3 linked regions of the Homo sapiens genome follow. The protein of the gene in region 1 purifies or fractionates together with the protein of each later gene. This does not show direct contact. Each region holds a gene or a part of one and is shown in the gene's direction. Other genes may lie near its edges.

Region 1 (3,658 bases):
ATAGAATTTTTTGTCTTTTAGCCAGGGCCAACTGAGAAGTATCTGAGTACAGGAAAAATTGCAAAATTATGTTATATATACCTTCACTATCATAGCAGCAATATATATGCACAAAAATGAAAAATTTGTTGACTCTTATAAGAAATAATGCATTACTGAAAATCTATTTGAAGAAAAGCAAAACTTAGGCTTATGTGCAAAGGCTCACTTAAATATGTATTACAGCTTGGCATGGAAGCACATGCTTGTAGTCCCAGTTACTGGGGAGGCTAAGGCAAGAGGTTCACTTGAGACCAGGAGTCTGGGCAGCAGTGAGCTATAATCACTCAACTGCACTCCAGCCTGGGAAACAGAGCAAGACCACCTTTTCCTCAAGTGTGGGTGTGTCTCAAAAAATATGTATTACAATAAAAATTTGGTTTATGTTTTCTAGCTTAGTTTTTAGAAATAGTAAATTCTAAATTAAAGGCAAATGTATAAAGTTATTATGAGAAATTTATTGTTAAAAAGAATCATGTGGTAATATTTCATTTCATTTTTTGTTTGTCTGTTTATTTGTCCGGAGATTCAGGGATCCTTTGAATACTTTAATCAGAGCCTAACACAGTCTAAGAGTCTGAAGTCTCTAAGAGAAATATATGTTCAAGAAAGAAAAAAATAAAACATGAATGAGATAAAAGTAGCAGGTTGTTGATGGTTGGTAAGTTCATCTAGACCAAATATCTAGACCAAATGGACAGACAAGTTTTGTTTTGTATTTATCTTTGTTTTTTCGGCTAGAAAATAATTTTTACCAATACGGGTCTGCTTTCTCCTAAGCCCACACTTAAGAAAGCCCACATTTGAGTTTTCCAATCATAGAAAAGGGAAAAGAAAAAAATATATTTTTCCTAGCTTTTAAAGTATGCTTAAACTAAGCTGCCCCAGGCCAAAATATTGTCCAATACATATAACAATTTACCCAGTGACTTCGACCTAGGCAGTGGCAATGGGCCAGGTGCCAAATGGAAAAAGATAGCAGAGGTCCTAAACCAGGAAAATAAAAGCAAACAAACGAAAACCTTTCAAACTAGCTTCAAGAAATCTCTAGAGTTTTTACCAATCTAGTCACATGGAAAAAGACACCCAATGGACAGCACAACCTTGGGCAGCCCAACATTCACCCAGCACAGTGACGTCACTCACAAGAATAATGATCACTAAAACGTCTTTAAACTGGAGAGAGCAGGGCTCTTAGGTTGTGACAGTGCCTTGTTCATCATTGGGAAGGGGAGAAAAGAGAAAGTGGAGAAGCGAGAGGCCCTGGGAGCCCCTAGAGGCCAGCAGTTCTCTTGATGTTTAATGGGACATAAAATTTAAACCTCCTTTGTAAATGTCTAGAGCAGAATTAATTAGAATGGCCTAGAAATATTAAGAGAGTCAGACTGAATGTTCATTCATATTAGGATAGAATTATTACATATTACCTTTAAATTTTGCAGTCACATTTTTGGTAATTAACTTTGAGAAATTTGTGAAGTGAGGTACAGTGATATTGATGAAGTAATCATCTCTAGCAATAATTTTGCTATTTAGTTCTCTATTGTCCCCTTTGAATTCAGTGGAATTTGTTGACCGGGCTTTGATAGTTCCCGAAGAGTTGTGATTTTATAGCAGGTAAAATAGGTTTCTATTGGATGTCAGTATGATCTGTAGAAGTACTAAGTAATTTCGATTGTACTTATCTAGATTTCTGTTTTTTCAAATATGGTTCATATAAAAAAAGTCACTGAGAGCTGGTACTAATTTCTATAGTAACTATTTCCAGTAGGTATTTTTTCAAAGAAATTAATACAAATGGTAGTATCATGTGGAGACATTTTTGTAAACTTCAGGCTTTAATATAGGTTATTGCTTCTAAACACACACACACACACACACACACACACACACACACAGTGGCATTTGATCTAATAATACTGGCCTACAATAGTATTCTTTATTCCCAAGTTTATACTTCTGGGTTATTAGTATTATCGATTTTATATTATATCTAACTCTTGATTAAAACAATAAGTAAATGATGATAGTCTTTACATGCAATGCCAAAAACAAATTGTTTGCAAATTAAGCAATAATTGATAGGTTTTGTGTAAATAATGTTTATGTAAATCTAAAGCAGTCTCTACTACATAAGGTATGACACATATGTCACTAATTTTTTTGTGCTGGAAACAGAGCTTTCTTTTTTTTCTTCCATTTTTTAAAAATGTCTAATTCCTATTGCATTGGTATGACAGAAACTTCGGTTCTTTTTTTACCTCAATTCCAGAGGATCGTTATCATCAAAAGGAAGTGCAATATTCTCAACCCTGGGTCATTGGTCTGCTTATATGTCCATTGTCTCATCTGCCTAGAGGGGTCTCAAATGAGACTGCCTTCATTCCAGTCCTCCTGGACTCTTTGGGAAATTGCTGATACCTCATGCCATAGGGAAGGTAAATAGGTTTCAGTGAGTTTATCTTTGGACTCCCATGTCTAGATGGACAGCATGGATCATTACTTTTAGGGATCTTCCTGACTCCCTGGACTCTACGATGTAATCTAGCCTCAAGGACTTTCTAGTCTTTATCCTCTAGGTTTCTCTGAGTTCTGCTCAACAAACATGGCACAGAATCTATCCTCTTTATATTCCCTCCCCTCTCACTTCTTTCTTCTTCCCAACCGGGTTGACTGAATGTATTTAACGTCTAGGATCAAAGACTCCCAATGATTTTCTTGATATTTTTTTCCTCAAAAGCACAACTCCTCTATTTTCTTTTTGCCTCAGCAACAAGAAAAAAAAATCTCATGATAGCTGTACAACTTTGCAAATTAACTACTTTCCTACTGTTCTCCATCCTATCTCATCCTCATCTAATCAATGAATTATAAAGCCAACATATAGGCCAGGTGCCATGGCTCACATCTTTAATCACAGCACTTTGGGAGGCTGAGGAGGACAGATCATTTGAGGTCAGGAGTTCAAGACCAGCCTGGCCAACACGGTGAAACCCTGTTTCTACTAAAAATACAAAAAAAATGAGCCAGGTGTGGTGGTGCGTGCCTGTAATCCCAGCTACTCAGGAGGCTGAGGCACTAGAATCACTTGAACCCAGGAGGTGGAAATTGCAGTGAGCCAAGATGGCACCACAGCACTACAGCCTGGGTGACAGAGTGAGACTGTGTATCAAAAAAAAAAAAAAAAATTCCACTATATGTTGGCCAAAAGTGGAGTAGGCAAAGGAATACATATATGTATATATGAAAAAAAAACCCAACATATATTAACATTTCAAAGTTATTATCAAAAATAATTGTGTAAAATTATATTTGTGTTTATTGATAAAACGATTACATCAGCATTCAATTTAAATGTACAGTGGATAGATATGAAAAAGAGATTATTTCTTTTTTGCCAAGTGGTTTTAAAGAACATATGTGAAGAACTTCCCTCCACTAATTATTGACTAGCCTGAAATACCGTTCTTACAGGAAATGCAATATACATATTTGATTTGAATATCAACTTACAGAATGATGTTGTACCCTAAAAACCTCTAATGGTGACCTAAAATTTTGTTGGTTTGTTCCTTTCTTCAGTATCATAAAAAGATACCAAAATTTTGAGATAATTGTA
Region 2 (3,658 bases), on another chromosome or scaffold:
TGTATAGGCTGAGAAATGAAAAAAATTATCAGTTGACTGGTTATTATGATAGTAATTGAATTGTCACGGAATAGCTGTTTTAAAGATGAGAAATTGGTACAATCCCTTGGATGGAAAAATTTAAAAACTGCAGTTTATTTGTTCCAGAAATATTTTAGTGTGCTTAGATGATCGGGTGTTAAATACTGACACAATTGTGTAATGGCAAGCAGCCCTTAACCCTTATGGAGCTTACAGTCTAGTGGGGAAGCATAAACAACAACAACAACAAAAACCTATAAAGTATCTAGTGTCTAATCTAGAGTGATAGGAAACGTATATTATACTGTCTGTCCCAATATGTAATAGGAGCTCTTATCCTTGTTTTAGAGCAGTTAAGGAAGTCTTTGTAGGTAGATTTTTTTAAAGCAGGAATTAAAAGGGTGAGCCCAAGCTAGCCAAGCAAAGGTTGGAAGGGACGATGTTAACTAATGCTTTTATTTATTTTTAAAAATGAGTTTACAGTTCTATAGAATGAAATGAAACAATTTTTTTTTCTTTCCAACTTTTAGGTTCAGGGATTACATGTGCAGGTTTGTTACATGGGTAAATTGTGAATCTTGGGGGCTTTAGTGTACAGATTATTTCATCACCTAGGCAATGAGCATAGTAGCAGATAGGTAGTTTTTTGATTTTCAGCCTCCCCCATCCCTACCCTCCACCCTTAAGTAAGCCCCAGTGTGTATTCTTCCCTTGTCTGTGTCCATGTGTACTCAAGGTTTAGCTCCCACTTACTTAAGTGAGAACATGTGGTATTTGGAAATCATTTTTAAAGATCTCAGATGTGGTATGAAACCATATTTAAATCCTTATCACTTTATTTATATTACCTTAAGAATAATCATATTCTTTCCAGCAGTAAAATTAAGAATCCTTTGTATCCTATCTTGGATTGTGATAATTTGTTTAGAATATGGTTTAGAGACTGTGTTAATAATGGAATCATCCTATCTGCAGTTAAGACAAAATCTTGTTTCCATTGTTGATACAGGTTCTCAAAATACTATTTTTGATGCCTTTGTAAGATGGCTTTGTAAAGATGAGCCATTCTTTTATTGTTGACTAGAATTTATATGAGACTTTTTCTTCTACAGATGTGGTCCTTGACCCTGGTTTTCTATTATTTAAAGTATAGCAGTCAAAATAGTTTTATAAATAGTACCAATTTAGAGTGATACCTCCTTAGGATGGTTTCTAGTAGTGACATATTTTTGTTAAAGGACCCATATATTCTGAAGACGTCTCTTTTTATAGAAAAGTTTAAATGAGGTCTTTTTTTTATTAAGGCCTTAGTAAAACATTAAATTCTGAGATTTTATAGTATTTACATGAAATTGAAGAAATCTTGAAATGGGCTTCCTGTTAGTTAACATATACGACTTGGATTATGATAGGTAATGTGAGGTATTTTAAAATAAAAACTAGTTTTCTTTGTTGGGTTTTGTTTTTAATGGTATCTACTACAATACATATTTAACAGTACAGAGATTTTTCAACTCATTCCTGACTCTTCTCTAGATTTTTCAGCATGGCCATACTTGTCTTTTTTTTTTTTTTTTTTTTTTTTTTTTTTCATTTCTCGCCTTTGTACAAATGTCGTTCCTGTTAATAATAGAAGTCACCATATACTCTAGATTGTTGCCTATCAGTGGGTAATAAAATGAGTCAGAATGCTGCAGTCTTGGAGTGGGAATTATCTTACACTTCTCGTTGCCTGGCAAGATCCTTTATATTACTTGTAAGCAAATGCCCTGTCTGAGGATGTAAGAAGGGTCTAATTTGGTAATAGAAGAAAGGGACCTAGTTTCATAAATATCTTCCCAGACTTAAAATTGTTGATTATAAACTGGATTACCTTTTACTTAGTGTTTTCTTAAAACCTTAACACTTTTCTGAAGGTACCTCTTTAAAAAAAAAAGTTTACAGAGAACTTTTAGTTAGAAAGATGTGCAAAGTGTCTCTTTCTTTTACCTCAATGATACTGCTCTTTGGAAGCAAATGATTTAAAGAACAAATTAGCCATTTATAAGATGATATGTAAATTTATTGCTAATAGCAAAAAATTTGTAACAAGCCAACTGTTCAACAATAGAGAAATGCTTACATAAATTATAATACTGTACAATTTCTATTACATGTGTATTCCTACATATATGTTCTTTTATCCGTCAATCATCTTTTTATTAAAGCATGTGAGTGTAAATAGTAGGCATCTGTGCAGCTTCTCCAAATATGCTAATTTGCATATCATTATCTAAGTTCAGTATTTGTGTAAAGATTTATCTTTTAGTGTGAAATCTGTGCAAATCTTATGTGTACATTCACTGAGTTTTGACAAATGCAGATACATGTGTAACTGAACTTATGACTTTCCTTATAGAAACTTCAGAAAGTTCCCTCATACCCCTTATCTCAATCTTGTCACTACCCCTTTTCCCTCAGGCAACCACCATTCTGATGTTTTTTCCACTATAGAATAAGAGTTGCCTGTTTTAGAATTTCATATAAATGCAGTCATACAATATTTAGTCTTTCTGTAAGACTTATTTTGCTCAGCATGTTTTTGATTTTGTAACGTGTATCAGTAGTTTCTTTTTACTGCTGAGTAGATTTCATTATATGAATATGCTGCAGTTTGTGTATCCCTTCAATTGATAGACCCTTAAGCTGATTCCTGTTTTGGCTATTATGAATAAAGTCGCAATGAACATTCTTATAAAATCCTTTTTGTGGACACGGATTTTCTTTCTCTTGGGCAAATACCTAGTATTAGAATCTCTGGGTCTTAGGGTAGGTAAATGTCCGGTTTTATAAGAAACTGCCAACACCTTTCCCCAAAGTATATGTACCATTTTACATTCCCATCAACGATTTTTGATGGTTGCTGTTTGATTTTGCTCTTGTTGCCCAGGCTGTCGTATAATGGTGCGATCTTGGCTCACTGCAACCTCTGCCTCCTCGGTTCAAGCGATTCTCCTGCCTCAGCCTCCTGAGTAGCTGGGATTACAGGCGCCCACCACCACGCCCAGCTAATTTTTGTATTTTTAGTAGAGACGGGGTTTCACCATGTTGACCAGGCTGGTCACGAACTCCTGACCTCAGGTGTTCCATCCACCTCAGTCTCCCAAAGTGCTGGGATTACAGGAGTGACCCACCACGCCTGGCCTTATATATCTTTTATGAAGTTTTGTCCTTTTTTTTTCTACTGGGCACACTTCAGTTTTATTCAGTTTTGTTGGGTTATCTTTTATTATTAAGTTTAAGAGTACTTTATATATTCTGCATACTAGTGCTTTGTGGGATAAATGTGCTAATATTTTCTCCCAGGCTATGAATTACTGATTAATTTTCTTAATGAGAGTCATTTGAATAGAAATTTTAAATTTAATTTATATATTTATTTTATGGTTATTGCTTTCTCTGACTCATCACCTGGATAAGAACTTTTATCTGGCCCCAAGTCATAGAAGTTCTCATACATATCCTATGAAAATCTTTATGATTTTAGCTACATTTTATCAGATGTGACTATATCCACTTCAGTATTCTTATGCTGTGTGTGGCATTTTTCTATTCATTCACTTTCAATCAATCTGCCTTTATATTTAAAGTGTGTCTA
Region 3 (3,658 bases), on another chromosome or scaffold:
TTTAAAAAATAAGATTAAAATAAGGTATTATCCCCACTTCACAGATGAGGAAACATCAAAGTTATTTAACTTGCCCAAAGTGGTTATACAGCTTAGTAAATGGCAGAGCTAAGGCAGTCCAGTCACCCACCTAATCAGTATGATTCGTTGCCTCCATTCGATATTAATCCCCAACAAAAGGCCAAGATCCTAGAAATAGAAATCCCCAAGTCCAGAATTACTTATAGTTCTTTTCTTCCTTCTACTTGAAGGTATACCCTTTAGCAGACCCTAATTGCTTGTTTTTCACTCTCATCTAAATGGGAAGACTGGGAACTGCTCTCACTAGAATATGCCCCTGACTCATAAAAAGGAAATAAAGGACCTTATACCCTAACATGGATGCCAGTTTGAAAGCTTAGTTTTTCAGATCTGAAGCAGCTTTCTCAGCATATTTTCTTGACTTCTAGAAAATCAGTCATCTAGGCTGGGTGCGGTGGCTCACGCCTGTAATCACTTGAACCTGGGAGGTGGAGGTTGCAGTTAGCCAAGATCATGCCACTGCACTCCAGCCTAGGCAGCAGAGCGAGACCCTGTCTCAAAAAAAGGAAAGAAAGAAAAAAGCCGGGCGCGGTGGCTCACGCCTGTAATCCCAGCACTTTGGGAGGCTGAGGCAGGCGGAACATGAGGTCAAGAGATCGAGACCATTCTGGCCAACATGGTGAAACCCCATCTCTACTAAAAATACAAAAATTAGCTGGGTGTGTTGGCACACGCCTGTAGTCCCAGCTACTCGGGAGGCTGAGGCAAGAGAATCACTTGAACTCGGGAGGCAGAGGTTGCAGTAAGCCAAAATCGTGCCACTGCACTCCAGCCTGGTGACAGAGTGAGACTCCATCTCAAAAAAAACAAAAAGAAAGAAAAATCAATCATCTTCTTTAATGTTAAATGAATTAATATTTATCAAGTACTTAGAATAGTGTCTGGCACAAATAAGGGAAAAATAAAATATATTTTAACGCAGCACAGCACATATCACTTCATTTTTTTCATCACTAGTGCTGAGTCAGCTTTGTACTTTTTTCTTATATGCACCGTTCACATGTAGCAAGGATGAATTTTTTTTTATTTTAGTAAGAGGCTAATCAAAAAAAACTACTAATTATCAGAGATGATATTTCCACTAACATGACACAGGTTGTGTTTAAAGCTTGAATTTGAAAAGAAGTTCTGAGAAAGTTCATTAATGTATTTTTTGTAATGAATCAACCTTCATACGAAAGTCTCTTATAATAATGATTTCATTCTGAATAAACTCGCTAATCTATAGTATAGATCTATGGTGGAGTATTGGATAATAAAACTAGTCCCTGAAATGAACTGTGTTTCTTCTTTTACTTTTTTTTTTTCCCCCCTGGCAGGGAGGGACAGGAAGGCGTGAGGAGGGCAACTCTTATTTCTTTAGGGTGGTCTCTTTCTTAATAAGGTCTCTATCTGCTGGTCTTAGATATCCAATACTCTGGGGGAAAAAAAAAAAATCCTAAAAGCCAGAAATGAAACAGCCAATGAAAAAAGAATTATGTTCACCCTTCCATCTCAGAGAATTAGGATAATAGTGTTTTCTAATAACCAGAAGCTTTAAAGGTTCCTATTAATTTAAACACAGGAGAAAAGTCAATCTGTGCTAATAATGTAACCTGGGATCCCGTATAATAGAAATTAGCCAGCATCATCAAAAGAAATGTATTTCCTCCAGTATTGTAAACATTTGTCTAATTTAGCTTTGGACAGTTTTGTAGCTACGGTTAGCCTAATGATGCCATTTATGAATTCAAAGCATTACCACTTTTGCAAGGATGCACAAAGTTCAGATAACTGCATTTACTCAGAAAAGTCTTTCACCTCTCCATTAATCCTTGGGATCTTTAAATGATTGCCTTTCAGTGGAAATGAATTTCACAAAACATGGTCAGTCAGTATGGTTCTAAGTTTGGCTGTGCACTTAGATTACCTGAGAAGCTGTTGAGTTTCCAACATCCAAGCCACATCCCAAGCCAATTAAATCAGAATCTTTGTGAGACCCAGGCATCAGATTTGTTAAAGCTGCCAGGTTATTACAATATGTAGCAAAGCTTTTGAACCACTTGTCTCAGGACTGTGTTTAGGCAGGTACTTATGGTTCTGCTCCATTGCGTTTTGATGACTCAATATGCAAAGAATTTCAAGTGTTTTTTTCTGAGCCTAAAGAATTGAGTTAAAGTAGACAAAATGGTATTGGATCCAAGACAATTCTTTTATGCTTGCTCATTTCAAATCCTGTATAAACAGATGTTGATTTGTTGTTTTGAAGATTGAGATAGCTTTTTGGGCTTCCACCCATAATGAAGAATAAACTCCAATTTTAGAGTGACATCTCAAGTACACCTATACGAGTCACATCACTGAGTATAACCAATTGTGCAGTTTATACACTCTGCACTGATTGTGATCTATTGTCACTTTGGCAATGGCTTTTTTCTATTTTCATACCTCTTTTCACACCTCCTGCTATTTTGCAACTTCTAATTACTATCACTTCTCTCTTCTACTCCACTGCTTTTTATCAGTCAACTCTTCTACATTTCAGTTTTAAAATACTTTTTATAGACGACTCTTGTTTCGCCTACATTTCAGCATAAAAACACCTATTTTCTAGATATTACCCAATCATGGCCTTGTGAAAAACAGTAGAGATCAAAGATCTTGTTCTAAATTTTTCACTTTGTCCTCCTCTAAAATATTTCTTGTGCATGCATCTATTACAGATATCACACCATCTTATTTGGTGGGCTGTGAATTGTGAACAAGGGCAGTGCTTTACTCATCTTTGCATGAGTTAAACCAGTACCTACCACATGAAAATCTGTCAAAAGAAACTGATAAAAGCTGCATCTAGGCTGGACATGTTGACCCACACTTGTAATCCCAGCGCTTTGGGAGGCTGAGGGGAGGATCACTTGAGGCCAGGAATTCAAGACCACCTTGGGGCTGGGCACAGTGGCTCATGCCTGTAATCCTAGCACTTTGGGAGGCCAAGGCGGGCAGATCACTGGTCAGGAGTTCAAAACCAGCCTAGCCAACATGGTGAAACCCCATCTCTACTAAAAATATTAAAAAATTGGTGGGGCGTGGTGGCAGGTGCCTTTAATCCCAGCTACTTGGGAGGCTGAGGAGGAGAATCGCTTGAACCCAGGAGGCAAAGGTTGCAGTGAACCGAGATCGTGCCATTGCACTCCAGCCTGGGCAACAAGAGCAAAACTCCATCTAAAAAAAAAAAAAAATACCGGGCGTGGTGGCTCACGCCTGTAATCCCAGCACTTTGGGAGGCCAAGGCAGGTGGATCACAAGGTCAGGAGATCGAGAGCATCCTGGCTAACACAGTGAAACCCCGTCTTTACTAAAAATACAAAAAATTAGCCAGGCGTGGTGGCAGGCGCCTGTAGTCGTAGCTACTCGGGAGGCTGAGGCAGGAGAATAGCGTGAACCCAGGAGGCGGAGCTTGCAGTGAGCCTAGATCGCGCCACTGCACTCCAGCCTGGGCGACAGAGTGAGACTCCATCTCAAAAAAAAAAAAAAAAAGGCTAAAGACCACCTTTGGCAACATAGCGAGATGGACAGTCCTAGCTATTTGGGAGGTTGA

The links.
Region 2: the proteins of PCDH9 (region 1) and TNKS purify together in Homo sapiens (affinity purification with mass spectrometry; one large-scale study listed by BioGRID and IntAct). This does not show direct contact.
Region 3: the proteins of PCDH9 (region 1) and IKBIP purify together in Homo sapiens (affinity purification with mass spectrometry, with the first as the bait; one large-scale study listed by BioGRID). This does not show direct contact.

The regions. Positions count from the first base shown.
Region 1 is NC_000013.11:66,625,231-66,628,888, reverse strand, and holds part of PCDH9 (protocadherin-9 isoform 1 precursor), read left to right. Parts: intron 1-3,658.
Region 2 is NC_000008.11:9,558,912-9,562,569, forward strand, and holds part of TNKS (poly [ADP-ribose] polymerase tankyrase-1), read left to right. Parts: intron 1-3,658.
Region 3 is NC_000012.12:98,634,650-98,638,307, reverse strand, and holds part of IKBIP (inhibitor of nuclear factor kappa-B kinase-interacting protein), read left to right. Parts: intron 1-3,658. UniProt on the Homo sapiens protein: Target of p53/TP53 with pro-apoptotic function.